Linked DNA regions of Homo sapiens. The protein of the gene in region 1 purifies or fractionates together with the protein of each later gene. This does not show direct contact. Each region holds a gene or a part of one and is shown on either strand. Other genes may lie near its edges. The genes, in order: HSD3B2, MACROH2A1, TOP2B and CTSF.

The links.
Region 2: the proteins of HSD3B2 (region 1) and MACROH2A1 purify together in Homo sapiens (affinity purification with mass spectrometry; 2 studies listed by BioGRID and IntAct, with this or other methods). This does not show direct contact.
Region 3: the proteins of HSD3B2 (region 1) and TOP2B purify together in Homo sapiens (affinity purification with mass spectrometry; 2 studies listed by BioGRID and IntAct, with this or other methods). This does not show direct contact.
Region 4: the proteins of HSD3B2 (region 1) and CTSF purify together in Homo sapiens (affinity purification with mass spectrometry; 2 studies listed by BioGRID and IntAct, with this or other methods). This does not show direct contact.

The regions. Positions count from the first base shown.
Region 1 is NC_000001.11:119,410,550-119,418,901, forward strand, and holds the start of HSD3B2 (3 beta-hydroxysteroid dehydrogenase/Delta 5-->4-isomerase type 2), read left to right. Parts: upstream 1-4,600; 5' UTR 4,601-4,653; intron 4,654-4,781; 5' UTR 4,782-4,870; coding exon 4,871-5,012; intron 5,013-8,352. UniProt on the Homo sapiens protein: 3-beta-HSD is a bifunctional enzyme, that catalyzes the oxidative conversion of Delta(5)-ene-3-beta-hydroxy steroid, and the oxidative conversion of ketosteroids.
Region 2 is NC_000005.10:135,339,186-135,347,702, forward strand, and holds part of MACROH2A1 (core histone macro-H2A.1), read right to left. Parts: intron 6,873-8,517; coding exon 6,783-6,872; intron 5,496-6,782; exon of another isoform or gene 4,250-5,495; coding exon 4,075-4,249; exon of another isoform or gene 3,970-4,074; intron 391-3,969; exon of another isoform or gene 243-390; intron 1-242. UniProt on the Homo sapiens protein: Variant histone H2A which replaces conventional H2A in a subset of nucleosomes where it represses transcription. Nucleosomes wrap and compact DNA into chromatin, limiting DNA accessibility to the cellular machineries which require DNA as a template.
Region 3 is NC_000003.12:25,626,169-25,634,685, forward strand, and holds part of TOP2B (DNA topoisomerase 2-beta), read right to left. Parts: intron 7,847-8,517; coding exon 7,673-7,846; intron 6,627-7,672; coding exon 6,525-6,626; intron 6,416-6,524; coding exon 6,278-6,415; intron 4,772-6,277; coding exon 4,633-4,771; intron 4,302-4,632; coding exon 4,144-4,301; intron 3,987-4,143; coding exon 3,861-3,986; intron 2,978-3,860; coding exon 2,867-2,977; intron 2,785-2,866; coding exon 2,679-2,784; intron 1,129-2,678; coding exon 1,019-1,128; intron 697-1,018; coding exon 604-696; intron 507-603; coding exon 392-506; intron 1-391. UniProt on the Homo sapiens protein: Key decatenating enzyme that alters DNA topology by binding to two double-stranded DNA molecules, generating a double-stranded break in one of the strands, passing the intact strand through the broken strand, and religating the broken strand.
Region 4 is NC_000011.10:66,562,964-66,566,626, forward strand, and holds the end of CTSF (cathepsin F precursor), read right to left. Parts: intron 3,442-3,663; coding exon 3,328-3,441; intron 3,205-3,327; coding exon 3,059-3,204; intron 2,965-3,058; coding exon 2,868-2,964; intron 2,789-2,867; coding exon 2,708-2,788; intron 2,044-2,707; coding exon 1,924-2,043; intron 1,844-1,923; coding exon 1,779-1,843; intron 1,686-1,778; coding exon 1,595-1,685; intron 1,184-1,594; coding exon 1,125-1,183; intron 1,045-1,124; coding exon 970-1,044; 3' UTR 501-969; downstream 1-500. Other genes in the region: ACTN3 (alpha-actinin-3), read left to right, coding at 72-230. UniProt on the Homo sapiens protein: Thiol protease which is believed to participate in intracellular degradation and turnover of proteins. Has also been implicated in tumor invasion and metastasis.

The DNA.
Region 1 (8,352 bases):
CTCCTCTTGAAACACTTTCTCCAGTTGACTTTTACAATGCCATCCCCTCCTAATTTTCCTCCTGCCACCAACTTCTACTCAGTATCTTTAGCTGGCCCCTCCTCCTCTTTTCAACCTCTAAATGTTGATATATCTATTCCAGGATTCAGTCTGGAAACTTTTCCTTTTATCCATGAATATTATTACCCTAGCTTATTTCATCTAGTCCTGTGCCTTTAAAAATTATTATATGCTTCTCACATACAAATTGACCTCTCTAGGACTAGCACAGGGGGTGTAATTATCCTAAAGTAACCCAGAATTTTAATAAGCTGGCCAAGAAGAGGGATTTTCCTTTTTCCAGCATGAGGGACTGTGCCTAATATAGCTCCCTGTAGAATGGGTGTCTTCTCCCCTAAGAAAAGGGAAACTCTTTGCATGAGTCCCAAGGACTCTAGGTGCTGGGTAGTTGATTTTCGCAGACAATCTTGTGAATAGCTGGCACCTAAATCCAGACTGTTTCACGCCAACAGCCTGTATTCCTCCCTTGAGGATCCTGTGTCCTTGTGCTTACATCATAAAAAGTTATAATAAGGGATGTAAGCCTGTGTCCTTGTGCTTACATCATAAAAAGTTATAATAAGGGAGATTAGTGTTCCTACACTGGAATGAATACTCACATTGTTAGCCCAGCAATTTCCTAACAATTTATGCATCAGCATAAGATAGGAGGATGGGGAAATCATGCTGCCTATTCTTTTGCTGATCAGTAATCTTTGTGAGTTTTCCTAATACAGCATATTATTTAACCCGTGATCATCATATTGAGAAATTCTTTACAAACTCTGATGCCAATAGGTGGTAACTCAGATGAGTATCACTTTACACAGCATGCTGACCTTCTCTGAGCATGTGGAGGACAATTTCATTGTCTCAGGATTGCATGTATGAAAGACTATCATTTTTTCCATTGAATTTGCTTTTGTCAAAATCAATTGGTCGTACGAATTTAGGCCATTAACTCACACATAAGCAAAAATTCTCTCAACATGGATTATAGGCCTAAATGTAAGGGCTAAACTATACACTTCTTGAAGAAATCAGAGATTAATACATACATGACACTGGATTAGGCAAAAGCCCAAATTTTCCTGGTAGAAGGAAAAAAGTCGAAAAATGAGACATGATCAAAACTAAAAATGTTTACATGTTAAAAGACATCAATAAGAAAATGAAAAGATAAGCCACAGACTGGAGGAAAAAAATTTAAATCATATATTTGATAAAGGACTCATATCCAGAATGTAAAATGCACTCACAACTAAACAACAAAAAGAAAAATAACCCAATTTTAAAATGAGCAAGATATTTGAATAATCATTTCACCAAAAAGGTGTAGGAATGGCCAATAAAGTACAGAAAAGATGGTGAGCATCATCAGTCAGCAGGGAAATACAAATCAAAACTACAATGTGACACCACTTCTTACCCACTAGAATGCTATACTAAAAATAAAACAATAACAATTGGAGGAAGTGAAAGCACAATGATGTGGGAAAATTGAAATACTCATGCATTGTTGATGGGACAGGCAGCCATGTTCAAAAACATTTTGGCTGTTCCTTAAAACATTAAAGATGCACTTACCATATGACCTAGCAGTTTTACTCCTGTCAACCCTAAAGAAATAAAAATGTATGTCTACACAATACATGAATGTGAATATTCATAGCAGCTTTATCCATAATGCACTTTGGGAGGCCAAGGTGGGCAGATCATGAGGTCAAGAGATCGAGACCATCCTGGCCAACATGGTGAGACCTTGTCTCTCCTAAAAATACAAAAATTAGCTGGGCATGGTGGCGTGCACCTGTAGTCCCAGCTACTCGGGAGGCTGAGGCAGGAGAATCGCTTGAACCCAGGAGGCGGAGGTTGCAGTGAGCCGGGATTATGCTACTGCACTCCAGCCTGGTGACAGAGTGACACTCCATCTCAAAAAAAAAAAAAAAAAAGGGGGGGAAACACATAAATATCTATCAACTGATAAATGAATAAACTAATGGCAGCCATCCATACAATTTAATAGAATTTGCCACCTAAAAGGAATGAAATATTGATACATGCTACAACATAGATGAAACACATAAGTATATTAAGCTATGTGAAAGAAGGCAGATGCAAAAGACCACATATTACATGATTCTAGTTATATGGTGTCCAGAAAATCAAATCTGTGGAGTCAGGAAGTCATGAGGGCTGCCTAGAGCTGGGGGCTGGGAATAAGAGGTGGCAAATGATAAGCATGAGGGATTTCTTAGGAAAGATAGAAATGTTCCAAAACAGGATTGTGATGATGGTTACACAAGTCTAAAATTTTACTAAAAATAATTGAACTGTACACTTAAAATGGGAATGTTATAATATGTCAATTATACTTCAGTAAAGCTGTTTAAAAACAGAAAGTTGGTAGTGTGGCCCCCAGCAGCCTTGCTCTTTGTCCTACTGCTCACTTTCCTAAAGAAAGCAAAATATTTATTGGTTTAAAGAAAGCTTACAGTTATTGCTTCCACTCAGACTCCAAGAGACACTGCCTGAACTCTAAGAGCCTCCAGAACTCTCAACAGCTGAAGGAACATTTGGTCCCACCCTGAAGGTCATGGGGGTCTGTAAGGTGCACTCCAGCATCTGATATGGCAGGCAAAGGTGTGTGATGCACCTGGGTGGTTTCAGATAGTGCTCCACAAGTCCCAGGGCCCGTGTCTAGTTCTGAGAGCTTCAGAAGACAAGCTGCTACACCTTGCATCACAGGACCAACCTTTCCTAGGCAAGTGGGTTTGAAGCATTGGCAGCCAGGTTCCAAGTAGAAGGTGAATGTCTACACACAGGAGAAAGGCAAGACCCAGAATGGGGAGTCAAGCTAAATCATTTGTAGAGTATGACTTCCAACAACTTCAGAAAGCATTCTTTTGAAGTGCTTATGGCATTTCCACCAACATAGACCATAGGCTGGACCATAAAACAAATCTCAATATATATCAAAGAATCAAAATCATACAGAGTATATGCTCTGGCCACAATAATATTTAATTAGAAATACATAACAATAAGAAAATCCCCAGTTTTAGAAAACATGCAACATGCTTCTCAATAACACTTGGGTCAAAGAAGACATCACAAGAAAAAATTCAAAACGTCAGTAACTGAATAATGATAACCCAATGCATCAAAATGTTGGATACAGCTAACATAGTGTTTAGAGAGAAATTTACAACTTTAAATGCCTATGGTGGAAATGAGCAAAGAAGTAAAGTCAATTATCTATGCTTTTATCATAAGAACCCTGAAAAAGAAGAGTAAAATAAACCCAAAGTTAATAAACATTTAAGCCAATAATAAAAATAATGAAAATCATGAAATAGAAAAATGAACAAACAATAGAGACAATCAGTGGTCAATTTTTCTGTACTCCATGAACAAAACTTCAGTTCAGAATGATTTTATATTTAAATATATATCCAGAATCACAAAGATCTTAGAAGAAAAAATTAGGAAAATATAGGAATAAAGTGGGAACTCTGTGGGAATAAAAATCAGAAAGTAATTGCCTACCAGGTAAACTCGGGGGAGGGCAGGCAATTGACTAAGAACAGGCAGATAAAACTTTCTGGAGTGAAGGAAATGGTGGTCTTCTTTTCGTTGGTACTTACATGGACATATATAACTGTCAAGGTTCATTGACAATGAACACTTAAGTGTACACTGAACGCTTAAGATCTGGGCCTTGTAATGCCCAGATTACATCTACTTAAAAAAACTACATCTCTATTTTTTTAAGTAGAGAAAAGTGTCTTGGGGAGTTTATGGCAGTGATGTTTGGGCAGACTGGGGCATAGGTTTCAGAAGCATTCATAGCATCTTCAGTTCAACAATTTGCTAAGAATGGTTTTGCAGCCAAAAATGTAAGATGAGTGCAAATATCTATGATTAGAGTCATTGGGCATACAACTACAAATCCCCACACTTGTATTACAGGCCATATGATTAATTCGTTATCACTAGATACCTTTCCTTCAATGAGGTTCTTCCATTAGGAACCCAGAGCTCTCCAGGGAAAAATTGCAATTGAGGTTTTGGATATATTGGGTGGAAAAGAAAGTCACCTCACATAAAACTTAGTGATTGGAGCTGTCACCATTGAAAATTTCTAAACTTTGCAAGACAGCAGTGACGTTTCAAATGACACTCTCAGAGAGTTGATAATGGGCTAAAATAGATCTCCCTCCAGGTGGATTTACTGTACAAGGACAACATTTACATTGCACTTGGAGACTTCTCCCAGTTTGGTTTAAGTTCACAGATTGCAGATCCCAGACAGCTGGTATCAACTGACCAGTGTTCTGTTAAGGCTAAAGCCAAGACTCTTTATCACACTGTGGCCTTAAGATTGGATTTCTCTTCCTGTTCCTGGGAAGAATTAGAGATATAACCTAAAGGTCACTATTATTCTGAGAAAAGGGATTCTGGAGGAGGAGGGAGCAATGAGTATGTGGCAGGAGTTCAAGGTAATAAGGGCTGAGACACAAGCCACAGAGCATAAAGCTCCAGTCCTTCCTCCAGGGATGAGGCAGTAAGGACTTGGACTCCTCTGTCCAGCTTTTAACAATCTAAGTTACGGTTAGAGCTTTCTCCTTTTCTTTCAACTACTCCTGGCAGTTGTGGGGTCATGGAATTTTTGTAAAAAATGGGGTGGAGGAAAATAAGGCATCTGCTGAGTGTATAACCATTTTACCTCTTGTTTTTAGCCCTCTTCTGGGTCACGCTAGAATCAGATCTGCTCTCCAGCATCTTCTGTTTCCTGGCAAGTGTTTCCTGCTACTTTGGATTGGCCACGATGGGCTGGAGCTGCCTTGTGACAGGAGCAGGAGGGCTTCTGGGTCAGAGGATCGTCCGCCTGTTGGTGGAAGAGAAGGAACTGAAGGAGATCAGGGCCTTGGACAAGGCCTTCAGACCAGAATTGAGAGAGGAATTTTCTAGTAAGTAAACTTGAGTCATGGGTCTGTGGCTCCATCTTAAACTCTGCATGGGTGTGGGGAGGTTGACCTTGTCTAGCAAGTTAAGGAAAGTTGTAGCCAAATGAAAGCCAGTCACACATCTAAAGTCATCAGAAAGGAAATAGAATAAAATGGTATAGTGTGAAAGATACTGGATGGGGTGTCCAGAGACTGGATTCTGGCCCTGACGCAGAACTTGAGAGGCAGCCATGTCAGCCTCAAGGCCCCTTTTCTTCTCTTCTAGAGAGTCACACATGAGTTCTCCTTCTTGTCTACAACTCTTATGTTCTGAAGCTTTTTGTCTTGGCGATTGCTGTGCGACATTCACAAAGGACATCATTTACCTGGAGACCTCACCAGTGGGTCCTGCCTGTCTAGACTGCCCCAGGCTTCATTTCATTTTATAGCTTCCTTAGTATCTTTAGTGAGGGCAAAATAAAAGGAAGTGAAGGTACGGATGTGTGTGTAATTGTGTGTGTGTGTCAGACAGAGAAAGAAAATGAGGGGGAAAGAAGGTCAGAGACAGAGAATGAGAAAGACAGAGAATGAATGAGAAAGATAGTGTGAGGGAGAGCATCAGCAAGAGAGAGAGAGTGAAAGTGAGAGAGATCATCAGTGAGAGAGAGAGAAAGAGAGAAAGAGAGCATGCACAAGTGCACGGCACAGAGCAGAGACAGAGTAAAAGGCAGTATGAGGCCAACATGCCTCATTTATATTTCTCATATATAGCCTTTTTAAAAAAAAACCATTTGTATCTGTTGTTCAATACTCCAAATAAATTGACTGCAGAATTTGCTGTAGTAACTCTTTGTGCAAATAACCCTGTGAGGAAGGTAGAAAAGGGGTCACCTCCAACTGGACAATGAACCCATCAAGTTCCAGAAACATAAAGTTACTTGCCAAGAACAGCTGATTAATGTGTAGCAGAGCTCAGACCAGAGCTTCATTCCAGAAGCTTCATCACTTGACCCCCGGGCTAATCCTTGGTGGGTCTTCAGTCTCTCCCTTTGCCTCTCTGTGTGCCCCAAACCAATTCCATGTTTTCCTCCCAACCCAGGGGACTGGGGGAACTATGTATCTTCTTCATGCAGGTTCTGGCTGCCTAGAAGGTCCTGCCCTGTTCACACAGAAGCTCCCCTTGACACTCTCCTCTTCTTTCACTCTTCTCTGACCTCTTTAAATGTCCAATTTCCTCCACTCTCTGTTCTAATAGTGAACAGATATTAACACATGACTGATATTAAATGTTTGTAATCCTTATGTCTCAGCAATATTTACAATCTAACATCTGATACCAGGAAAAAGCAATGCTCAGTCTAGAGGAAGAGTTCTGCTATGGTGAAAATGCAGGGAGCATAATGGATGGGCAGGGCCTGTATGAAGATAAAAACAGAGAATCCTTTCAGTGTTCTTTCTGTGCCAGGCACTGTGCTAAAGGTTTTGCATGTGCTGACTCATTTACTTCCCATAACAACCCTATGAGATGGGTAATACTATTATCCTCCTTTTTTATAGATGAGGAGACAGACACAGAGAGGTTAATCAACTTGTCGAAGGTCCCAAGTTAGATTACGGCAAAGCTGGATTTGAATCCAGGCAGTCTAGTGCAGCTTCTGTGCTCTTAAGTAGTAGTTTGTCTAGCAGCTTCTCTGAGCCTCCCTCCAGCCCAACACACAACACAAAAGCAACTGAATTTAGTCTACATGAAACACTTGCCAAGTCCACAGTGCCTTGGAGAAGGAGGGAGCTAAGACTCCATCAAAAATTGCGCTTTTCTGGTCTCTCTAGATCCATGGAAACTCACCGGGGAAGAGTCATTTTCTATCGGCTTTGGACTTCTGCTATGAAATGGCAATTCCTTTGAGCCAGTCTGTCTAAAGTCGGCAGCAAAGGAGAAGCAGATGAAGGGAGTAGAAAAGGTAGAGGTGGAAATACAACCAGAGAAAATTCCACTCTCGGGCTGACACCCACCTCCTCCCCAGCAGCCTCTTCCCTGCCTCCACCATTCCAGGGCCTTCTTGGAGTTGCCTGACAGTGGGAAGGGGCTGGGAGTAGACAAAACAAGGCAGAGGCATCAGAAGAGCAAATGGTCCCACCTGTATCCCAGGAAGGAATTTCTCCAGCCTTGAATTTTTCATTCTGAATTTCGCTCTCACTGTTCTTTGGCCTTTGTGGGCATTTTCAGTTAAACTGGCTTATTCTTACTCTTTCTCAGAAAAGTTGATTCTAAACAGCTATTCCTGCACCTGGGGTACAGGGTACAAAAATGGCAGGTGGAATGGGCAGGTTTGAGCCTTCACTAGAAAATTGACTTTAGATCTGTCCCTTAACCTCTCTGAGCCTCAGTTTCCTCACCAATAAAGTGGGACTCAGAATACCTACCTCACGAGATAGCTGTAAAAGGAAATAAGCAAGCTGTGAGCCGTATGCAGATTATAAAGCACAAATGAGTGTAGAGTATTTATCTGAGCTCCATGTAGCATGGTGTTCATTTTGTGGGCTAATTCCAGGTGACAACTTTACCGGCAGCGTCACTACCTGTGGATTTCAGAGGAGCCTGAAGATATGGATGTTACATCCGCTGCCCTTGGCTAGACATTAGACAGCTGAGATGTTAGTTCATTGGTGGCTAACTCATTTTCAGCATTGCTATCTGCTTTTTATGATATCTGATAAAAGTTTCTCAATGAAATTAATCATTTAAGCCCATCTGCAATTCCTGAGTAATGGCTCCACTCTCCTCCCAGTTGCCCAAGCAGGAAACTGTAAGGGTGATTTTGTCTCCTTTTCCTCTCATCCCAGCTCCAGTAGGTACCAGGACCTTCAAGGTGAGGTCTGAAATTCAAACCTGGAGTGCATCTCTCCCCTCCTCTGCTTCCACTGCTGGACCCTGGTTCCAGTCCTCATCTAAACTTTGGCACAGACATTCTGATTAATCTCTTGATCACCTGGCTTTCTCATTTCCCCTATACCAGTCTGTTTTATATCCTCAAGCCAAGGTAAACTTCCTACGCCACAACTCTGCGTCTGTTTATCTTTTATTATTATTACTATTATTATTATTATTATTATTATTATTATTATTATTTTGAGACAGGGTCTTTCTCTGCCACTGAGGCTAGCATGCAGTGGCATGATCTCAATTCACTGCAACCTCCACCTCCCAGACTCCATCCTTCCTCCTGCTTCAGGTTTGTGATTAGCTGGGACTATAGGCACATACCATCACGCCCAGCTAATTTTTGTAATTTTAGTAAAGACAGGGTTTTGCCATGTTTTCCAGCCAGACCTCCACCTCCAGAAATCAAGTGATTCACCACCT
Region 2 (8,517 bases), on another chromosome or scaffold:
GTCTGTAATGCCCTTTGCCTTTCCCAAGAGTCCTGGACCTCAGTTTCCCAGGGCCAGTGCAAGATGCCCTCTTGGGTCAGCCTCCTCAGTAATGGCTGGGGGGTGTACGCATTGGATGCTTGTCCCACGGTCCTGTCTGGACACGCAGGGACTCTAGGTGCACCAAGGACCACATCCCAGCTCTTCTCAGCCCTCTCCTTGAGTGGGACTTCACTAAGCACCCCTGCTCTCAGTGAGCTCACCTTCCAGGGCTGGGGCCAGGCAGGTATGCAGCAAATCCAGGCTAGGAGCTCATTAGGGACCTCAGAGAGTCACAGCAGGAGAGGCTGTATCCTGGGAGTCCAGGGAGATTTTTCTGGAGCAGACAGATTGCGAGCTTGCAATTGACGGCTGGGGAGGAGTAGAGGTGGATTCTGGTATTCTTTGTCTGTCACTTAGGGTATAGACATTCTTCTGCTAAGATTAGGTCCCCCTCGCACTGTGCTGTGGGCTGCTCTTAGGCCTTTACCATTTTTTAGTAATTGCCAGGTTGAAGTTGCCCCAGCCACAGGCCACTTTGATCCAAGTCATCAGGATCCTGAGCCGAGAGCAATGGTATACAGGAGGGAGAACATTCAGAAGCGATGGTGATGGGGCCACCACTCCCCTGAGCTGTGCCCCCTGCAGCTAGAGAGGGGATGGGGCAGCCCCAAAGTGGCCTCCCACTCCAGGCCCCCGGGCTTTGGGTAAATGAAAAATTCTCCCCCATTCAAAGGTCTCTTGAGTTTCTGTCCTTTTATCTCACCTCTGAGGCCAATGCTTAGGAGGGGAAAGAGGCTGATGGCTATACTTGGGCAGGTCAGGGAGTTCCCAGGTAGTGTTTTATGCACAGAGAGTACGCAGGCAGGGGGCAGTCCTATGGTGGGATGAGGTGGTGGGACCTGGGGTCTGGCTGACCAATGGAGATGGGAGGCAGGGGTTCCATGAGCCTAACAGCTCTGAAGCGAAGGGCTTCTGATCAAATTCTCACTCTACCAAGTACAAGTTGAGTGACCTCAGATGATTTACTTAACCCCTCTATGCTTCAGTTTCTTTGCCCTTGAAAGGAATAATGCTGTTCACCTTGTAGGGTTGCTGTGAGATAATGCAGATAAAGGGTTTAGCACCGCGCCTGGGGCTCAACACATACCCATAAATAGTAGCTTGAAAAAAATAAACCAGCTTTTCCTTTTAAGCTTATAAATCTAAGGAAAGTTTAATCAAAGCCCCAAACTAGTATTCCCTATGTACTACCCCTCTGGAGAGGGGTCACCCCTAATGTGAAACAGAGCTGAGGGAGTGGGGGTATCCATAAATATCGTGACCAGAATGGCTGAGGACAGGATGTCCAGATGCCAGGGCCTCACAGGCTGGAGGGAGCCATCACACAGGTGTGGTTATGGTCATCTTCCATCCATGTAGGCTGTGCCACTGGGCCTCAGCTAAGAGAGTGATCCTTTACCAATGGCTCTTTCCCAACATGCTTACCTTTATACTGTTTTAATTCCAACATTACTTCCGTGCCAGAGACACTGGATGCAACAAACAAGCTGTTTTATTTCCCCTCCTAAAACCCACTGTGATTTACTGGCCGGCTCTGGTGTAATCCCATTTTTTTTTACTCATGAAAGAGAGGGCAGCTGTTTACACAGCTCTATGGGGTGAGGTCTGCCTGGCAGATGTGGCCTGGGTAGCTGTACACATGTGCTGCCTTAGGCATTTCCCCCTCTTCAAGCTTTCAATTGATTATTTTTATTCCTACTTTTTACTCCATGAAAAATGTAAATAAGTTTGTAATAACAGATGCTCTTTTATGAGAATTACTTTTATGCTTCAATTAAAAATTTCCCAATACCCATATGAAAGGTTGTGAAATTATTACCTCCAATAAAGTTTCCTATTGCCTCCCTCTGCGGAAGCACCTTTCATCAGAGCAGATCAAAGTGCATTGAAAGCACTAATTAACTGAGCCTCAGAACCATTTGTGAGGATGGGCAGTCCCTATAGCCTCACTTGCTGATAAGGCAGACCAGGGCAGAGAGGCTGATTCATTTAACCAAAGGTCACACAGGATAGGAGAGCTGAGGGGCCTCACTCACAGAACCCCAGGACCAGACAGCCCAGAGATGTGAGGCCAGGGAAGGGGGAGGCAAGCCTGCCCATAGCTCAACAACTGGTGAGGGGTTGCTGGGGAAATGCTCATTCTGCTGTTTTGCCCTTGACTGGGAGAAGTGGGGGTGGCGGCGGGTGGCGGGCAGTGATACAGGCTCCAGAGAAGGTTCAGGTGCAACCAGAGATCTTTCCCCAGAGCCTGGTACTGGTGGGTCCTGCCAGTCACACATGGCCTTGGCCATAGAAAGCCCTGGGGAACGGTGGCAGTGCCCATCTGCCTGTGGACAAGGCCTTTTACTAGGCAGAATGTCAAGTGACAGGAAGCCCACTCTGTACTAGTTCTGCCACCAGTACTTGAGGTGTGGGACCTCAGTGATGGCAGCATGCAGGAGGCAAAATCACGAGGCCTGCCTAAGCGGAAAATGGCAAAATCTACTCTCTATCCTCTAGAAAGTTTGGAAGGAAAGTGCTTTGCAGAGAGCAGCTGTCAGTTCAGGACATGGTTCTGAGGACTGTTGCTCAGGCTCGCCCAGAAGGGACAGCCTGCAGTGTCATAGGCAGTTGATGCTGCACAGCCCTGCCTTCCTTGGGTGCTGGGAGGGGCTGATGGGCAGAGACCCCAGAAGGCTCACAAGCTGGGATGGGAAGCCCCAGGAGCAGTGGCAGGTACTCTGTCCAAAGCAAGCCACCTGCCAATACAGAACCCCAGGTTATGGCTCCTCTTGGGCGCAAGTTGTTAACAGCTACAGCCTCTAAAGGCCAGTTTCTCTTTGCTTCAGTGCCCAATGCAGACCTCGAGCCTTCCAGAGGCCTTGGACTCTTGGACTTAGACCCTTGGTAGGGAGGACCCTAGCAATGGGCAGTGGGACACAATCTCAGAGGTGGCTCTGCCCTGACAGGTCCTCATGTCTGCATCATGGGACACACTTCTGAAAGCACTCTGCCTTCTAAGAGCTCCTTTAATTTCTAGAGCAACCCTGAGATACTGCATGGGGGGATTATTATGCCAACTTCTCAGAATGGGGGTTAATTTACATGTCATCACTCACCGGGTTAGTGGCCAAGCCAGGATGCAACTCCAGGCCTGACCCCTAAGCCAGAGTGCAGTGCTGCTCCAACAGGCAGGAACCTGATAGGTTATTTGCTGACATGTGTGGGGTGTACAACCAGGTAGGTATTGTGGGGGTTGCCCTGAGCCCTACCTGCATCATCAGCTGTCGAAAAACTAGACTTCTCCTGTGGTGGTCCTCCGGGTATGTGTATGTCTTAGGGGCAACTGTGTTGGTCGTGAAGACCTTGGTGAGTCTACCTGGGGATTTTCTGGGACAGGAAGTGGAGTAGGGCCCAGCCCTGTTTCAATCTCACGTAATTCCCCATTCCGTTCCACCAGGTCCCATTACCTCATTAGCAGGCCAGCAGGGTTACCCTAGGGCAGTAAGACAGGGAGTCAGGTAGAGATGCAGGTTCTCAGGAGGTGAAATATACTTGTGAGTAGAAAGGAAAGGGGCAGAGGGCTTTATCCAAAGAATACTGTGGTTTGGGGGACAGACCATAACACAGCTATAGCCTTATTCTGAGACAGCCAAGCTGTTCGTTTGTATCCCTGTATTCACGCCTCCAGATCTTCTCCACCCAAGTCACTGTGCCCCTCAAAACTTACTCTCTGAGGTACCATTTCTGTGGTCCCAGTACACACTGGGTTCCCCTTCTGTGATGACATTTGCTATCAAAACTTAAGTTTTATATCATCCTTGGGATTTGGGTCTCTCTAATTGTCCCTCACCATCATTTAATGTCTGCATTCTTCCCTGTGTTGTGCTTCTGGTCTCCTTGGTTAAGGCAGCCTCCGTGGGCCTTGCACAGAGTGAGAGCACCACAATTATGGGCCATGTGTGCGCAGAGAGACACACCCATGACCGATACGTAACAAGCATGTGCCCCTACCTGCCGCTGCCGATGGATGGAAATGCAATGGATTTCAGCTTCTTATCATCAGCCAGGGCCAAGCAGTTTTTCACTGTCTTTTCCAGAAGTTCTTCACACTTGTCTGCACCCCAAACTGGACTATTACAGTGGATCACAAACTTGGCAGGCAGGCCATGGCCTGCGCTGACAGCAGCTAGTGGTGCGGGGATGAAACAGAAACAGTGAGCTCTGGTTCACTGCAAAGCACAAGATGCCAAACACAGACCCACTCCCCTGCCACGGTATATCTTCCTGGGCCCTCCAATGCCCTGTGTCCGAGGAGTTCCACAGCTGTCTGCTGCGTTGTGATTCCAACGTGAGCTGGAGCCAAGCCACACCCTTGGAAAGTTGGCATTATGATGTGTCACCACCAGGAATTTTGACCAAGTTCGTAGTAAGCCTCTCTCCACTCTCAGAAAGCATACACGGTTCTCCCAGAGGCAGAGCCTTATCCATCAAAACTCAACTGAACGCAAACTCAACGTGTCAGAACATTTGCAGCCTCAAAATAATTGTTTTGGGTTTCCAACCCTTCTTCTTCAAGTCGACTGGTGTGCTAATTATCGACTTGCACACCAATATGATGTATTTGTCTCTACTATGATGTATTCTCTAAATCTCCCAAACCCAATTCAGGACAAAGCTACTAGGAAAGCAACTGCTTTAAATGATCTGCTAAGCAACCTGACCAGCATCTCCACTCTGCCATTGTCTTCTCCCTGCTGAGGATGGCCTCACTGTGTGAATAACGGATCCTGTTTATTTGTGGCAGAATTAGATTAGTTTTTAAGGAACTGTGTTTTTCTTTTCCTAGAAGAGGGGCCCCTTTCTAGCTATACATCTCCACCAAAGACTTGCCTTTCCCTTGCCAGATCTAAGGACACAGGCCTGGGGTCTGCCACAAACTGCAAAGTACCATGTCTCCCAGAGCATGTTCCAGAACCCCTGTCCACAGATGCTCTGCAAAGAAGGTTTCCAGGGCACTGGGTTTAGCTGCATGCTACGCTTCTATACAAGAGCACACCAGAGTCTCCACACCACTGCTAAAGTAAAACATCCAAACTTTTTGTATTTGGTTGGCTATTTCTGAAACTTTTTTTTTTTTTAAGGAATATCTGTCCAAGGGGTATGGTTTGTTATGGTCGTGTCATAGATACTGGAGAAGGAGCGATTTGTGGGTAGTGTCTCATGGTACAGTGGAAACAGCTCAGTCACAGGGTGTGAATTTGAGTCCTGGCTCTGCTTTGTGACTGGGCTTGAGAACTCTGGGCTGACCTATAAAAACCTGACATTGGGGGTTGAATTAAACCAGTGGGTTTGTCCCCATGAGAAGTCATGGCTAAACTATGCATAGAAAACGACTGGAAAGAAACATTAACAGTGACTATCTTTGCACAGTGGAACAGGAGTATGTTTTATTCACCTCTTTATACTTTCAAAAATATTTTAAAGCAGTTTCTAAAATAGCCCTTAAAATCAAGAACAAAAGTGTTATTGAAACAAGCAAAAATATCTTGAACCATGCTATACCTAATGGGTTTGCATCTGCTGTGGCTGAGGTTTCCCCAGCAGAGTTTGGTACATGGCAGCACCAGGCTGCCTACCAGGCCTTGTGCCAAGGGCTACCAGCAGGACTCAAGCTGGAACCCCGATGGGAAAGGACCCACAGGCTGGTCAAACAGGTGTTTTAAAGGGCCTGGGGAAAGGCCAGCTGCCCCTGGCTAGGTAGTTAAAACTGTGTATGCCTTCCCTTGTACAATGTGGGACTTTGGTGGAACTGCCTGGGAGAACTTCATAATTACTACCCTGTATGTCATGCCCCTTGCAGGTAAAACAGAAGTGGCAGAGCAGAGGTCAAAGGCACAGATCAGCAAAGGGAATCCTACTGGATCCTGAGACTAGCCTGGAAGGGGTGTCATTTGTCACTGGGAATAGAGGTGCACGGCCTGGTGGACCCTCCGAGAGAGCTTAAGATTCATTTTTAAAACAGAGGATTTAAAAGACACAATAGGCATTGGAATCGGGTAGTAAGAAGAGAAAACCAGAGCCCCAAGTGAGGAAGTGGGTGATCTGTCCTCACACAGTTGGTGGGGGAGCTGGGCCTCCCCACTGACTGGACTCTCAGGTCCTTAGGAGGTGCTCTGTCCTGCACACCCCAAATGACCACCTAAATTCAGGCCTGAAGCAGTAAGAAGTACCCTGCCTCCAGGTCTTAGCAATAATTCTCCCCACATCAGATGCCAAGTCGTTTTCTTCCCCTTATACCAGGGAAGGTGTAATTGGCAAATGAGAAATGTGTATTTATATGTTTCCTCTTACACACACAGATGGCTGAAGATTTTTAATTTGTATCTCTCACCAGCAGTTTTGCAGATGGCTCAGTATCACTCACTCTCAGCTCTTAGATGTACCAAACTCAGCTCCTATAATTTCTTAAAATTTGTGATCTAGACATCAAACATATAGGAGCTATTTTAAGTAATAAAAAAAAATGCAAAGGTGATTTTCCCAGACAACCTGCATGTGGTGAAACTCTAAGATGTAAAGCTACAGGCTGTCCTTGGCCTCCATCTTGAAGATGCGGCTGTGCTGCCACACACCTCTGAATTCTAAGCCCTCTCACAAAATGGCTTTCCTAATACTGCATGTGTCACAACCAGATAAGCACGGTGGCTTTCCCACCTCACCTCCAGCTACTTCCAAGGGCCCGTTCTTTTTCCGGAGTTCCAGGACAGCTTCCACAAACTCCTTGCCACCTTTCTTCTCCAGCGTGTTTCCTAGACAAGGACAGGGTGGGGTCAGGTTGCCATTCTGTGTCTCCGGCACACACAGACACTTAGCATGTCAGGTGATTACATACTTCAAATGATCTATTAAATTTCCATCAGGCTGCAAAACAGGAACTAAGCCTTGGCTAAGTTAATAAAGTAAAATTGAGAAGGGCTTTGTCATCACCAGTTACTACCCTCAAATTGCTGCTTCATCTGGCTGTCTCTGCTGCCCCTTATTTGGGTCTGACTCAGGGTGATCATGGATGTGCCAGAGATGTGAAAGAGACAGGACATGCTTGTTTTTTGCAAACATGCTTGTCCTGGATGCTTTTCATTGGCATGAGATACTAGCTGGTACTGGTTTCCAAGACTAATGCCTGCCTTAGGTTTTCTTCTCTGTCTCTGGGGAGAACCCCCAAGTAAGGAGGTTTCAGCAGCATACAATGCTCCCATCAATAAGCCAGCTCTCCTCCTGGCAGCAGGCCTAGAAGGAAGTGTTCATACCTGGCCACCTTTGGACCAGCATTATTACCATGCTTAGTTCCTGTTTTGCAGCTTTGGTGTCATATGCAAATACAAAATAAAAATGGCCTCAGACGGTATTTTCTTAATTACACTAATGATTCAGAATTGTTTTCAGTAAAGAAGGGCAACATCAGAAGCAGAGCTTAAAGATTAATCTGTGTTCTATAAAAAGCTTGGAAAGGAGGATGTCTAACTGCTCAGGACCAGATTTTTCACAAAAGCCAATGGAGATTGGGAGCAATGTGTTTTCTTCAATTAGGGCACTTGCTAAGTAATCAGTTCCTGCTGTGAAAACCAAGTTCCCAAACAAGATCACCAACACCTATGAGAACTCTGGGTTGATGCTCATGTGGGATAGCAAGTGGCAATCAAAGTTAGCAACAAGATCAGCCTTTCAAGTTTGGCCAGAATGGGGTCTGAGTCTTCCTTAAGCTCTGATTCCTCAGTTTTGCACATTTTAAAGTACTTTTCCTCACAAGAGGACAAAATACTCCCCTTAAGATTCACATCTGTCTTGGAAAATTCCAGGTGCACCTGGCACAATTCTGGTATGGGACGGTCAAGGTGCATCGGAATGCACCAGCCCAAATTCTCTTTGGAGTCACCCTGCGATGACCAGGGTTAATTATCTTAGTGAAACTTGCCTCCTTTGAATGTTTGTTCTGCAGGGGTGAACTAACCCCGGGAGGTGTCTGGGAAGAAGAGTAAATAGCTTGGGCTTTGTCCCAAATAAGAACCAGGGCTAATGGCTAGGACTGGGCCTGTACCCACCCGCTGTAGGAAACCTGGGGTGTGCAGATGAACATGACCAGCAGCCATAGCCCAGGGGAGCTCTCAGCTGTGTCCGAGAGAGGGTGGCACAAACTTAGCATCCTTGAGGTGGGATTTTGTGTTACCCTTCATGATCTCAGACTGCCCTCCTGCCTCTACCTGTCCTGGAAAGCAGCACAGGCTTTAAATGGCAGAGTGAGAATGTCACACCTGTTGCTGCTGCATGTTTCTAGTAAAGTCAGCATCAGAGGTGGCAGCTGAATGGGGCATGCACTGGAGGAAGCAGGCCGGGGGCTTAGAGCCCAACTCCACCACTACAAAGTGGATGCAACCCAGGCGAGTGAGACCCCAATAC
Region 3 (8,517 bases), on another chromosome or scaffold:
GTTAAAGCATTAGGCTTTGGGTAATACAGAATAAAAGCTTTTTAAAATTTAATCTCTGATAAATATTTTAGAAATTATCAAAGTTCCATTTTACTTTTTTAGAAAATCTGCAGACAACTTGGGCAAAAGCTTTAAGACTTTTAAAGTTAATTTTCCTGAAAAACTCGGAAAAGGTTTAAAAGTTTCAAATTAAGGAATATTAAAGATTTCAGCACTATGAAAACATAAAACAAAAGCAAAATCAAAAAGGCCTTAAATTCCTCTGAATAAGCTCTTCATATACAAGATTTAAAGTAAGAATTTTAATATGTATCATAAGGATGGCTTAAAGTACATGAAATTAAACTATAGTAAATAACATTAAAAAATGAGGTTTTTAAATATTACTCACCATCAACAAGAGATGGTATAGATCTTTCATTGTCTGAGTTTGAGAAGAGAATCAATTCCTTGTTGATGAAATCATTATAAGTCAAATGCTTTGTTGCAGTACCATATAAAAATTGCTAAGAGAAAAGTTATATAGCAATATTATCATTATTACTGCATGAATTCTAGTCTCTCTCTCCTTCTTTCCCCAGGTCACCACTCTTTAAGACTAACCTCTGGTAAGCCATGTAGCCTACGCTGTCTCCGGTCTTCCATAAAATTTGTTAACCATTCTTTTCTGTCATCAATCTTCTTCTTACTAAATGCCTGAAAGATTCCAGGTAACGATTTTGCACATTAAAAATAAAATAAATTTTATTACAAAATTAAAATGTATAAGTGGCCAATAACTAATTCTTAATTTCTGGAAAATTAGGTTATTTTACAATATTTTAATCAAAAACACATTTAAACTAAGGTCTTTCAATTAAAGAAGTTTATACAAGCACAGCATCATCTGGGGGAAAAATTAAAATTAACTAGCTTGAGCATTCAAAAGAGACTTATCATAGGGAACCAGGACTGGGAGGAAAGGAATAGAAGGTAGGGGGATGGCTAACAAAAGCTTTTAAAAAATTAACTTAATTACCAAGGTAATGGCAGCATCATCTTCAGGACCAGCATATCTAAACAAGATGCGATGCCTTTCCATATCAGCAAAATATTCCTTTGCTTCTTTAGCTGTACTAGTACCCAATCCTGCACAATTTTAAAAATAAAAGTGAGTCATGAATATCAATGTCTGTTTAAAACCATCAAGTAAAAAGCTGGTGGAAAAGTTGTAATAGATGGATCAAGCTGGCAACACCTATACTAAGTGATCAATCTTAATAAGCAACTAAAGACAAAGTAGACATTAGATGCTTCCTGATGAAAGCACACAACGCTACCTATGAAATGTTTTTGCCAAACAAATGTAACCCAAATCTGATCACGCCTCTGATTTAACCATCAGTTAACAGAAAATAAGGGCAAAGGAAAATACTATATATTAAATGTAACTAGAGGAATATAATTAACAAAATCCAGAATGTGGAATATTACACAGAACAAACAACCCAACTTCTTTAACAAATAAATTACAAGGAAAAAATATAAAAAGAGAAATGCTATATTAATAAACTTATCAACCAAATGCAATGTGTGGACCTTACTTGGATCCTGACTTTGGAAAAAAACAAACAAACTCAGGCCAAGCATGGTGGCTCATGCCTGTAATCCCAGCACTTTGGGAGGCTGAGGTGGGCGGATCACTTAAGGCCGGGACTTCTAGACCACCCTGGCCAACACAGCAAAACCCCACCCATACTACAAATAGCCAGGCATAGTGGCACATGCCTGTAATCTCAGCTACTTGGGTGGCTGAAGCATGAGAATCACTTGAACACATGAGGAAGAGAGCCGAGATCCCACCACTGCACTCCAGCCTGGGCAACAGAGCAAGACTCTATCTCAAAAAAATAAAAACAATTAAAAAAAAACGAAATAAAAATAAAAATAAAAAACTCTAAAAATAAACAATTTTAATACAGTCCAGGGGAATTTTAACACTGGCTGGGTATTTAACATTATTTAAAAAAAAAAAAAAAAAAAGGGAGCCAGGCATGGTGGCTCACACCTGTAATCCCAATACTTTGGGAGGCCAAGGTGGGTGGATGGCTTGAACTCAGGAGTCCAAGACCAGCCTGGGCAACAAACCAAAACCCCATCTCTACAAAAATACAAAAATTAGCTGGGTGTGGTGGCACACACCTGTAGTCCCAGCTACTTGCGGGGGCTGAGGCAAGAGGATCATTTGAGCCCGGAAAGTCAAGGCGGCAGTGAGCTGTGTTCATGCTACTGCACTCCAGCCTGGGTGACAAAGCAAGACCCTGTCTCAACAATAGGATATTAAAGAAGGTTATGATAATGGTATTATGGGTTACTTAAAAAAATTCTTTCAGAAATACATACTGAAGTAGTTATAGGTGAAATACTAGACTATAATGTCTGGAAGTTTTTTCAAACTAATGGAGTGGCAATAAAGGAGGTTTACAGGAAACAAGACTAGCCATTGAAATGGTGATCCCATTCAATGAAATCTATTACACTATTCTACTTGCATACATTTTTCTATAACAATACTTTAAAATCAGTGATAGCTATTTTCGAAGTCTAAAATAGTCAAACTTTCAAGTCATCTTTTAGATTGCTTTCATAAGAATACATTTATATCAGTATTTAAAATCTAAGTATTTTAAAATACAAACCTTTATAGTACTTTATTTTCCAGGCTTTCTGGTTTTCTATATGTTTTTTCCATTCGTCAAATTCAGGAATACTGTAGAAGGAAAGTTCCTGCTTATTTTTGCTTGCCTTAAATTAATTAAAAAACAAAATTAGTTTTTCTGCTACCCTTTAAGACAACAATATAAAAATATATTAATGCAAAGAGTACCTTTACAATAGGAGTAATGAACTCTTCAAGAAAACCATGCTTCAAAAGTGATGGCCAATTGTGATGGATGAAATTAATAAGCAGGCCTTTTATGTGAGAACCATCTTGATCCTAAATAAATGTTAGTAAAGTAAAAAATGTTGTAATACTTTTATAAAATGATTACTTATATAAACAAATTTTAAAACGTGAATGCAAAAAACCAAAATTCTGAATTTTAGAAATGCATTTTACAAAAGCTATTAAGATGATCATACTAAATTTTTTAATACACAAATAAAGAATATAGTAGTAATAGACTGAATCTGTCATTATAAAAATATATTATCATTTTATCTGTTTTATAGTTTCCCCAGATTTCACTAAAAGAATGATTTAAGGATAGAAAATACATAAAATAAAACATGGTTATAATGCCACCTTAATGGGCAATGGTAGGGAAACCCAGGTAATACAGATATTCACAAGTCTTCCCTAGATAAAAAATTGGAAAATTTCTGCTTAAAACTATATATTAATAGCAGTTTTTTCAGTTGCAGATTTTCTCTACAAATACTTTAGAGTGCATAAGAGAAAACAGTTGAATGCATCTGAAATTCTTCCTTTTCAATTTTCTAGTTCTTTCTCGATTACCATCATTTTACTATTTAAGTCCTGGTATTTGTGCATTCCAAATCATGCCATCATGTATAAATATTAACCCTTATCATTAATCTTTCTTACTTGTTAATTCCATAATTTTGTTCCTACTTGTAGGTAGGCTGCTATAGTACCACACTGTATTATATTCTCCTTAGTTACCCCAAAAATCAGACAATGTAAAATGTGCTTCATAAAAATGTTTCCACTAAATGACGTGGTTTTTTCATTTTTTCCTCCTGATGTATAATCACTTTCAGTTATACCATCTTCGGGCAAGTCTCATAAAACAAATATTAAAGGGAGAATCTGAAGAAGACATGAATTTGAAATATGTGGTAACTTTAAAACCAACCTGATCGGTCATAATCATAATCTTTCCATAGCGTAAGGTTTTCAGAGATTCTGCATCATCGTAACTTTTCTTATATTGTAGACCAACTATTTTAATAATATTATTTATTTCAGCATTTTCCATGATCTGTTCAAAAAGGAAAAGCACTGAGAGTAGTTTGAAGTGTTGAAATATACGAGTCAGAAATTACATTTAAAAATTCGAGAAGTTTAGTAAAGTATTAGAAATGTCATATGTATGTGTGCATGTGTGTATACACATATATATACACACACATACATACCTGTTTATGAGAAGCTTCCCGTACATTAAGAATTTTGCCCCTGAGTGGAAAAACTCCGTATCTGTCTCGTCCAATCACACCTAATCCAGACACAGCCAGTGATTTGGCAGAGTCTCCCTCTGTTAATATCAGTGTACACTCCAGGGAATGTTTACCACCTGAGAGAAATTTAAAATTATACATAGTAAAAATTTCTCATACTTTCACTGATGAGAAAAATGAAGTCAGAAAATTAACATTAGAATGCTGACAGTGAAAGACTATAAAAGTTATTTTACATTATTGCTCAGTATAAATATTAAGTATATTTTATTAAATTCCTATCCCCTGAAAATTAGTAATATGTTGTGTATGTGATAATTTCAATGAAGTAAAATCATACTCTGAATGGAAAATCATAGTCTAACTATATGTAGAAAATAAAAAAATTCTGTAACTAAATAAAAGTGAAACTTAAATCAAAATCTTATTTAAAAATATCAATCTTACCAGCATCATTAGCATCATCCAGTTTGGGAATACCTTTGATTTTACTGTATTTTACTGATGAACACTTCTTATTCAGCTGAGTCTGAGCCTTAAATTTCACCCAGTTCAGGATACTTTCTACAATGCCACAATTAGAGGCCTAAAAATAAAAGAATAATGGTATACAAACAAGCTGAAAATTCATACATTTAGCTAAAATGTATAGGGCCTAATGCAAGACCTGGAATCTGTGCAATTTTAAGGTATTTTAGGGCAAAACAATAATGGTGATAAGCATCATGATACATGCTAATCAGCTTTTACTCAACTACTGTAAAATTAAAGCTAAAATATAAATACATGAAAAAGGATAACTTTTACATATGAGAAACATTCTATTATAATAAACTCCATGAGGAATATGCATTGCTCTTGTTACAAATTAATTTTATTAAAATTAACACAGTGAAAACAGATCCACACATGAACCTACTAGCCGGCAAATTCCAGACGTTGACATTTCTGATATCCTTCAATACAAAACGTGAGTCTTTAATTCACTATGACAAAAAGTATTAACCTAAAAGGAACATTAGGATAACCTTGGTAACTTATGAATAGACTTTTATTCTTTAAATAGCTTGGTAATAAAGATTTCAACATTACATATTGTTTGTACTCTGCAGTGAATCAATCTGTGGCAAGATGTTAACCCAGACAGAAAAAGGAAAAGAAAGTTAAGCATCTCCAACTCTAAGTCCTAAAAGTTTTTTTATCATCCTCGGTGATTTGATGTTAGGTGTATAAAACAGTTTTCTGGAATGTTTAAGACATAAACAAAAGAGGTGAACTGTGTTGTCAAATTTAAACTTAGTGCACCTAAAATGAAAAAGTATAAAATTTAAAATCAAATCACTTCATCAAGGAAACAATTGTTATGAGGACAGAAATTTGGGAAAGCATTAATATAGCATAATTTGTACTCAGAATTCATTAAGATTAGATCCAAAAGTACTATTTCTACAGGCCTTAAGTTAGAACCTAAAAAACAACTTTTGTTTTTGTTTCTGATAATCTACTTTTTGGAATTTGAGAAATACATTAGTTCTAGGGCAGTTATAGAGCATTTCCCCACCAAAATTCCAAAGAGGAGAGGCTGTGATTGATTCATCTCCATTATTTATTTGTGCTCTCACCTTATTTTAGAGAAGTTAAGGTAGCCTAAAAAAATTATGTGCAAAGCAAAGCAATTTAAGAACATGTAGAAAATAGTACATTTTGTTATACATGTTACCACAATTTTTAAACATGTATAAAGATAAGAATCAGTAGATCAAGTTGAAATGAGAGTAGAAAAGATGAAAGAGTTGCATAAGGATCTGGACATCTGTTAGGGGAAATCTGACCTTTACAATGGTCAATACAAAGCTAAAAATGCAATTAGTTACATAATTCCCTACTTTAGTTCTTGGCAAAACAATTGTTTTAGGAAACATTAAAGTCTACCCTTTAAAGTTATCAAATTAAGCATATTAGTTTGTAGTGCAAGCATGCTTATACCCACAGTTAATACGATGAAAGAAACTAATCACAAATAAAGTAAATCAAGAAAACTACCTAATCAACTCTTAATAACAACAATAAAAAAAATACAAGTTTTACTCACTGCTTTAAAAAATTTTTCTGACAGCTGGCATTTAGACCCAAAACTTTTGGGCTGCAGAGTCATGTTTTCCTTAGTCTGAGAATCAAAAGTTGGATTTTCAATAAGGCAATTAATAAAAACCCATATATGGTTTTTTACCTGTTGAAAACATACCCAAAAAAGTCAATATCAGAGCTGATATTTAGTAATTCAGTATATATATAATGCATATGTATGCATCATGTACAATATATAACACATCCCTTACTTGAAATGGTTTCACTGATACACCAGCTTTGTTCTTTTTCTTAACTACTTCAATCAGTTTACCAACAACTTGATCTACCACATAATCCACGTGCCGTCCACCCTAAAGAAAAAAAAATATATGAAATCTGAAATCCTGTATTGTTAAAGTAGCAAAATACTTTATCTGTATTATAAACCCTATTTTCTAAAAGAGTAATAGAGTCTCAGAACGAGAGTTGAGATTTTAAAAAAATAAGACATTTTGGCTACAGAGCCAATAAACCAACCGCTGTGTTTTTTTTGTTTGTTTGTTTGTTTGCTTTCCTCACTTCAATTCTAACACCAATTCTCAGGTGCTTTCAACACCAGCAACCAATTCTCTGATTCTCCAGACACCAAATGGATGTTCAACAATGTAATTCAATTTTGATACTAACTACCTGGAGTTAGCACAAGTATTTAGGGTTGGTTAAGGGCTCAATCCCACAGGACTCCCCACACTTCAGATGCCAGTTACAAGTCCTAGGCCTCCTGTACTTCTAACGAACCTATGACCCACTCCTCAGGAATGATAATTTGCTGGAACAGGTCACAGAACTCAAGAACACACTTTACTTCATTTACAAGTTTTTTATATAGGATCCAGCAATAATAGCCAAATGGAAGAGATGCATAGGGCATAGTACAGGGGAAAGGGTACACAAAGCTCCATGCCTTACCCAGACATGCCACCCTCTTGGCACCTCAAATGTATTCACCAACCTAGGAGTTCTGTGAACTCCATTGTTCAGGAGTTTTTACAGAGCTTTATCACATAGCCATAATTGATTTTTAACTCAGTCACCAGCCCCCTCTCCTCTCCCCAGAGGTTGGGGAAGGTGGGGCTAAAAGTTACAGAAAAAGGAATTTGTTATTCTAAATTTCATAAAATATAAATATGTTCAACTACAAACACTAGTCATATAAATTTATTTCTCAATAATTGTTTAAATAAATTTTAATACAGCAATTTCATAGAAAATAGGTTTTTGTTTTCATAAGTCAATTCTTATTTAACAAAAACAGATTTGGGTTTTTTGGGGGTTGTGGATATTGTTATTTGTTTTGTAGTTTTTATTGAAGTACTGTTCTACCACTGACTTGGAAACAAATAATTTGCTTACTTACTTTTGTAGTTGCAATACTATTTACAAAGCTGATTTGCTGGAATCCTTTTTCACTCAATGTGAGACAAACATCCCATCTTTCATTTGCAAGCTCATGAATAACTTTCAGGGCCACCCCAGTTTCATCCAATTTGTCTTTCACATAAAGATCTACATAACTGCGAAATCCATTTACCTATTAATTTAAAAAACAAAAACAATTAAAAATCTTACACTGGCAGCTCAAATAGGTGAATCACCTTCAGTACGTATACTTTCATTTCCTCTCACTTACAACAGTTCTAAGTGCACCGATCCAAACCTTAGTGGCATTTCCCAGATCTATTCCTTAACCCTTGACCTTTAAAAAAGAAATTCATTTCTATGTGTACTTGACAAAAAGAGGATGTGAAGGGACAGGTAAATTGTTATAAAATATTTCAGAAATTTCTATTTTTAAAATGATAAGGTAGACTTCCAGTTTCAGTTCAGACAGATAATGAACTAGCAGGAAAAAAAGCTTCCATCCTTGTAAGAAAACGGGTGATCAGACAACAAATTAATGGGTTTTTCATGAACCCACTGAAGAACTGAGATCACAGGAGAGCTGGCCATCCTGAAGTCTGGAGAGACATAAGTGTCTGTAGGAGACCACAAAACCTAAGCTTTTGCTTACCTGGGGCAGATATTTAATAAGCTAGTAGGAACTTTAAACTAGAAATTTTGACTAATTGCTACTGGAAGAGTGTATACTAGTTTGAATGCATAAAGCTTCTAGGGACTATAGTCATAAGTTCATTCATTCATACTCTTGCAGGTTTTTCTTTCAGAAAACCCACCAAATTCTCACAGGGAAGACCAGTGAGA
Region 4 (3,663 bases), on another chromosome or scaffold:
AGGCGGTGGAGGGGCTGGTGGGCTAGGGCAGGGCACGGGACCTGTGGGTCCTCAACGCCTCTTCTCCCCAGAACTACATCACCCCCGAGGAGCTGCGGCGCGAGCTCCCTGCCAAGCAGGCCGAGTACTGCATCCGCCGTATGGTGCCCTACAAGGGATCCGGGGCCCCGGCTGGAGCCCTGGACTACGTGGCCTTCTCCAGTGCCCTCTATGGGGAGAGCGACCTTTGACCCCAACCACTGAGGTTCTCTATGCAAGATGGAGAGAGGATGCACCCTGTGGCTGATCCCATCCGTCCCTCGGAGCAAGGGCCTAAGAGAAAAGCCAGCCAAGTGCTTCTGAATAAAGATCCCTCTCTGGGTCTCTCCCCATCTCCTTTTAGTTCCTGAAGCAGAAGCTGGCCCCTCAGGCTCCTGGGCAGGACCAGCTATCCCACCTTGACCCGCCAGGAGTCCCTGCCATCTCTCCTCACCCCCGGGGACTGAGCATTTATACCACACTCGGGACAAGGACACCTCTTTATTGCTGTTAGAAAAGGGTGGTTACAAGTTTCCTGGACATGGAGAGGGACACTATCCCTAAATCCAAGGGAACCAGAAAATTTATAGTATCAAACAGAGGAAAGCGGGGGCAGAACAGAGCTGGGCTTAAGATCAGAAAATTTTCTTCCTGCTCATTACCCAAGCCCAGAGTTCTTGCCCCAGCTTCAACTGCCAAGATACCACCCTTCACCCCGACATCCTCCTAAGCTACCACAATTCAACAAAGGTGCAGGTGCAGAACTTCAGGGTGGGAATGGGGTGCAGGGAAGCAGGGGCTGTGCCCCAGCCCAGTGCCCTCTGCTCACCCTGAGGTACCCAGTGCCTTTCCCTCTGCCAGCTGTACCTCCCGGGGAGGGGCCTGGACACATGTCAGGCTGGGGCAGCAGCCACTCTGATCAGCACCAGGTCCCGAGCTGGGGGCCCCTCTTCAGTCCACCACCGCCGAGCTGGCCATGGTGTTCACGCCACAGGCCCCGGACCCACGATGCAAGTAGTAGTAACCCTGGGGGAGAGGGGGAGCTGGTGAGGGCACCAGGGTAGGATGGCGGCTGGAGGGCCAGGGGCCAAGCCAGCAAGACTCACCTTCTCACCCCAGTCAGTGCCCCAGCTGTTCTTGATGGCCCAAAAGGGAACGTCAGAGCCTGGGGTGCAGTGCAGAGCGCAAGGATCAGGGTCCTTAATTCTCCAGGCAGAGCCTTAATCACTTTGCACCCTTCAAATACTTGCACTGGGCCTACTGTGTGACAGGGACTAGGAAAAGAGCAGAAAGCGAGGGGCCCACCTACCAGCCTCAGGGAGAAGCCCTGGGGCAGGGAGGAAGCACGCACCCACCCGCCTATTGCAGGTTATTAGGCCATCAATATTTACCCTCCCACAGCTCAGCTTCCCTGCCATAGAGAGGACAGATGATGCCCAGCTGGTCATGGCCCAGGCAGTGGGTAAGGACAGGGTTCCTAGGCATTCCCCCTATTTCCCCTCTAGAGGACCTGAGATGCTGTGATCCCACCCCTGCCTGTGGCCTGGCTGGATGCAGGACAGGCAGCGGAACTCACGGTTGCCGTAGCCCACAAGCAACACCGCATGGTCAATGAGCCAAGGGCTGCAGAGGGGCCGGAGAGGGCGGGAGATCCCGTGGCGGTAAAACTGGAGGTGGAGAAGGAGTAGGGGATCGACTCCAAGAAGAGGTCGGGGAGGTCAACAAGAGATGGGGCAGGGGCAGTGGGGCTAGGGCCTCACCTGCATGCCAAAGGCATTGATGGCCACGGAGATTGGGCCTCTCTTGGCCAGCCAGGCTGCCAGCTCTGAGATGGGAAGGGGTGGCATCAGTAGGCACCCAGGCCCCGGCCCCACCTGACCTCACCTCACCCTGCCCCTCACTCACTCTGCTCGTTCTGGCTCAGCTCCACGGAGTCATTGATGTAGACCTTGGCCTTCTCTGCTGAGAAGTTGCAGGACTGCATGTGACCCTGGTAGCTGTAGTCATCCTCTGTCTCCAGCCCTCCTGGGGAACGGTGGGGGTGAGTAGAGAAGGGCAGGCTCCCATTTGCCATTCACAGCCAGAAATGAACTAAGCCCTCTACGCGAGGTTTCACATTCCTCGTCCACCCCAGGCCACAGGCCATCCCCTCTGAAGAATGTCTTCATTCTAGAAATGACACATCTGAGGCTGGGAGAGATGGGGAGGAGGGACCAGTAGCCAGCAAGAAAAGTGGCAGAGACAGAACTCAACTCCAACTTCTGACTCCTCACCAAGAGCTCATCCCAGCAGTCTTTCACCCAGGCTGGAGTACAGTGGCACAAACATGCCTCACTACAGCCTCAACCTCCTGGGCTCAAGCGATCCTCCTGCCTCAGCCCCCCAAGTAGCTGAGACTACAGATGCAAGCCACCATGCCTGGCTAATGTCTTTAATTTTTTGTAGAGATGGGGTCTTGCTATGTTGCCCAACCTGGTCCTGAACTTCTGGCCTTAAGTGATCTTCCCAAGTTGGCCTCCCAAAGTGTTGGAATTACAGGCATGAGCCACCACGCCTGGCTGGGTCAGCATTAAGACCTGGACCCAGTTCTGTGTAACTCTCATGCTCATGTCTCCCCCCCATTATGAAGTAACTTCTTGTACAGGGAGAAGTGGCTCCGGTTGCCCCTCCTGACCCCATTAATGCATACCCAAATTCTTTATGGCCGAGTAGGCATTGGAGGGCAAGCCGCCCATGCAGGCCTTGTCCATCTTGTCACAGTCCAAGAGCTCTAGGAGACAGAAGGCTGGTCCCAAGAAGCCCTCCTGAGGGGCTAGGCTGGGGACAGAGGAGTAGAGCGAGATGCTCACCCTGTTCAGAGAGGGAGAGCAGGGTCCCCTGGTTGAGAAACCACTGGCCCTCCACATTGCCTGTGACTGAGAAGGCCCAGCAGGAGCCACACATGCCCTACAAGAGATGGGTGGAGTTGGAGTCAGAGCCGGGCCCCTTCGTCAGCCCCAGTGCAGTGCCCATGTCCCACCCTCACTTCCAGGGGTCCAACCTGGTCTTTGACTTTTGTGACAGCCCCCTTACTCCTCCAGTCCCATTCAGGTGGGGCGAGGTCACCCACAGACTTGGCTTGCTTCATCTTGTTGCCAGGCTCTTTCCTCAGGAGAGTATTCAGGTAGATAGTGCGGAACTCCTCCTCTGCGGGCAAAGGTGGGCAGGGCATGGGGAGGAAGAGTGTTCTAAGCCAGACCTGACCAGAGGCCTTGCGAGCAAGGTCCTGTCTCTTCCTGGATCCATGAGGACTGTGGCCACTATCCCTACCTGTGAGATCACTGAACTTGGTGACTCCATACTGAGCTGTGCCACGGTCCAGGGCCTGGATCTTCTGTGCTCGCACCATGTTATTGACAAAGACGGACAGGCGCCACCGGGCTTCTGAGGACCAAGGAGCAGAAGAGGAGGGGTTCGACCCCAGGCAGATAAAAGGAAGGGCAATTGGGGCTAGCAGGCAGGGGTTTCCCCGGGGAGCAGGTAGGGGTGGGGGCCAGACATGCAAGTGATGGAGTGGGAGGTCTGATCAACTTTTAGGGCCAAACTGAAGTGATGACTTCCCAGGTGCAAAAGCAGTAAATGGGGTCTAAAGGACACCACCCACAA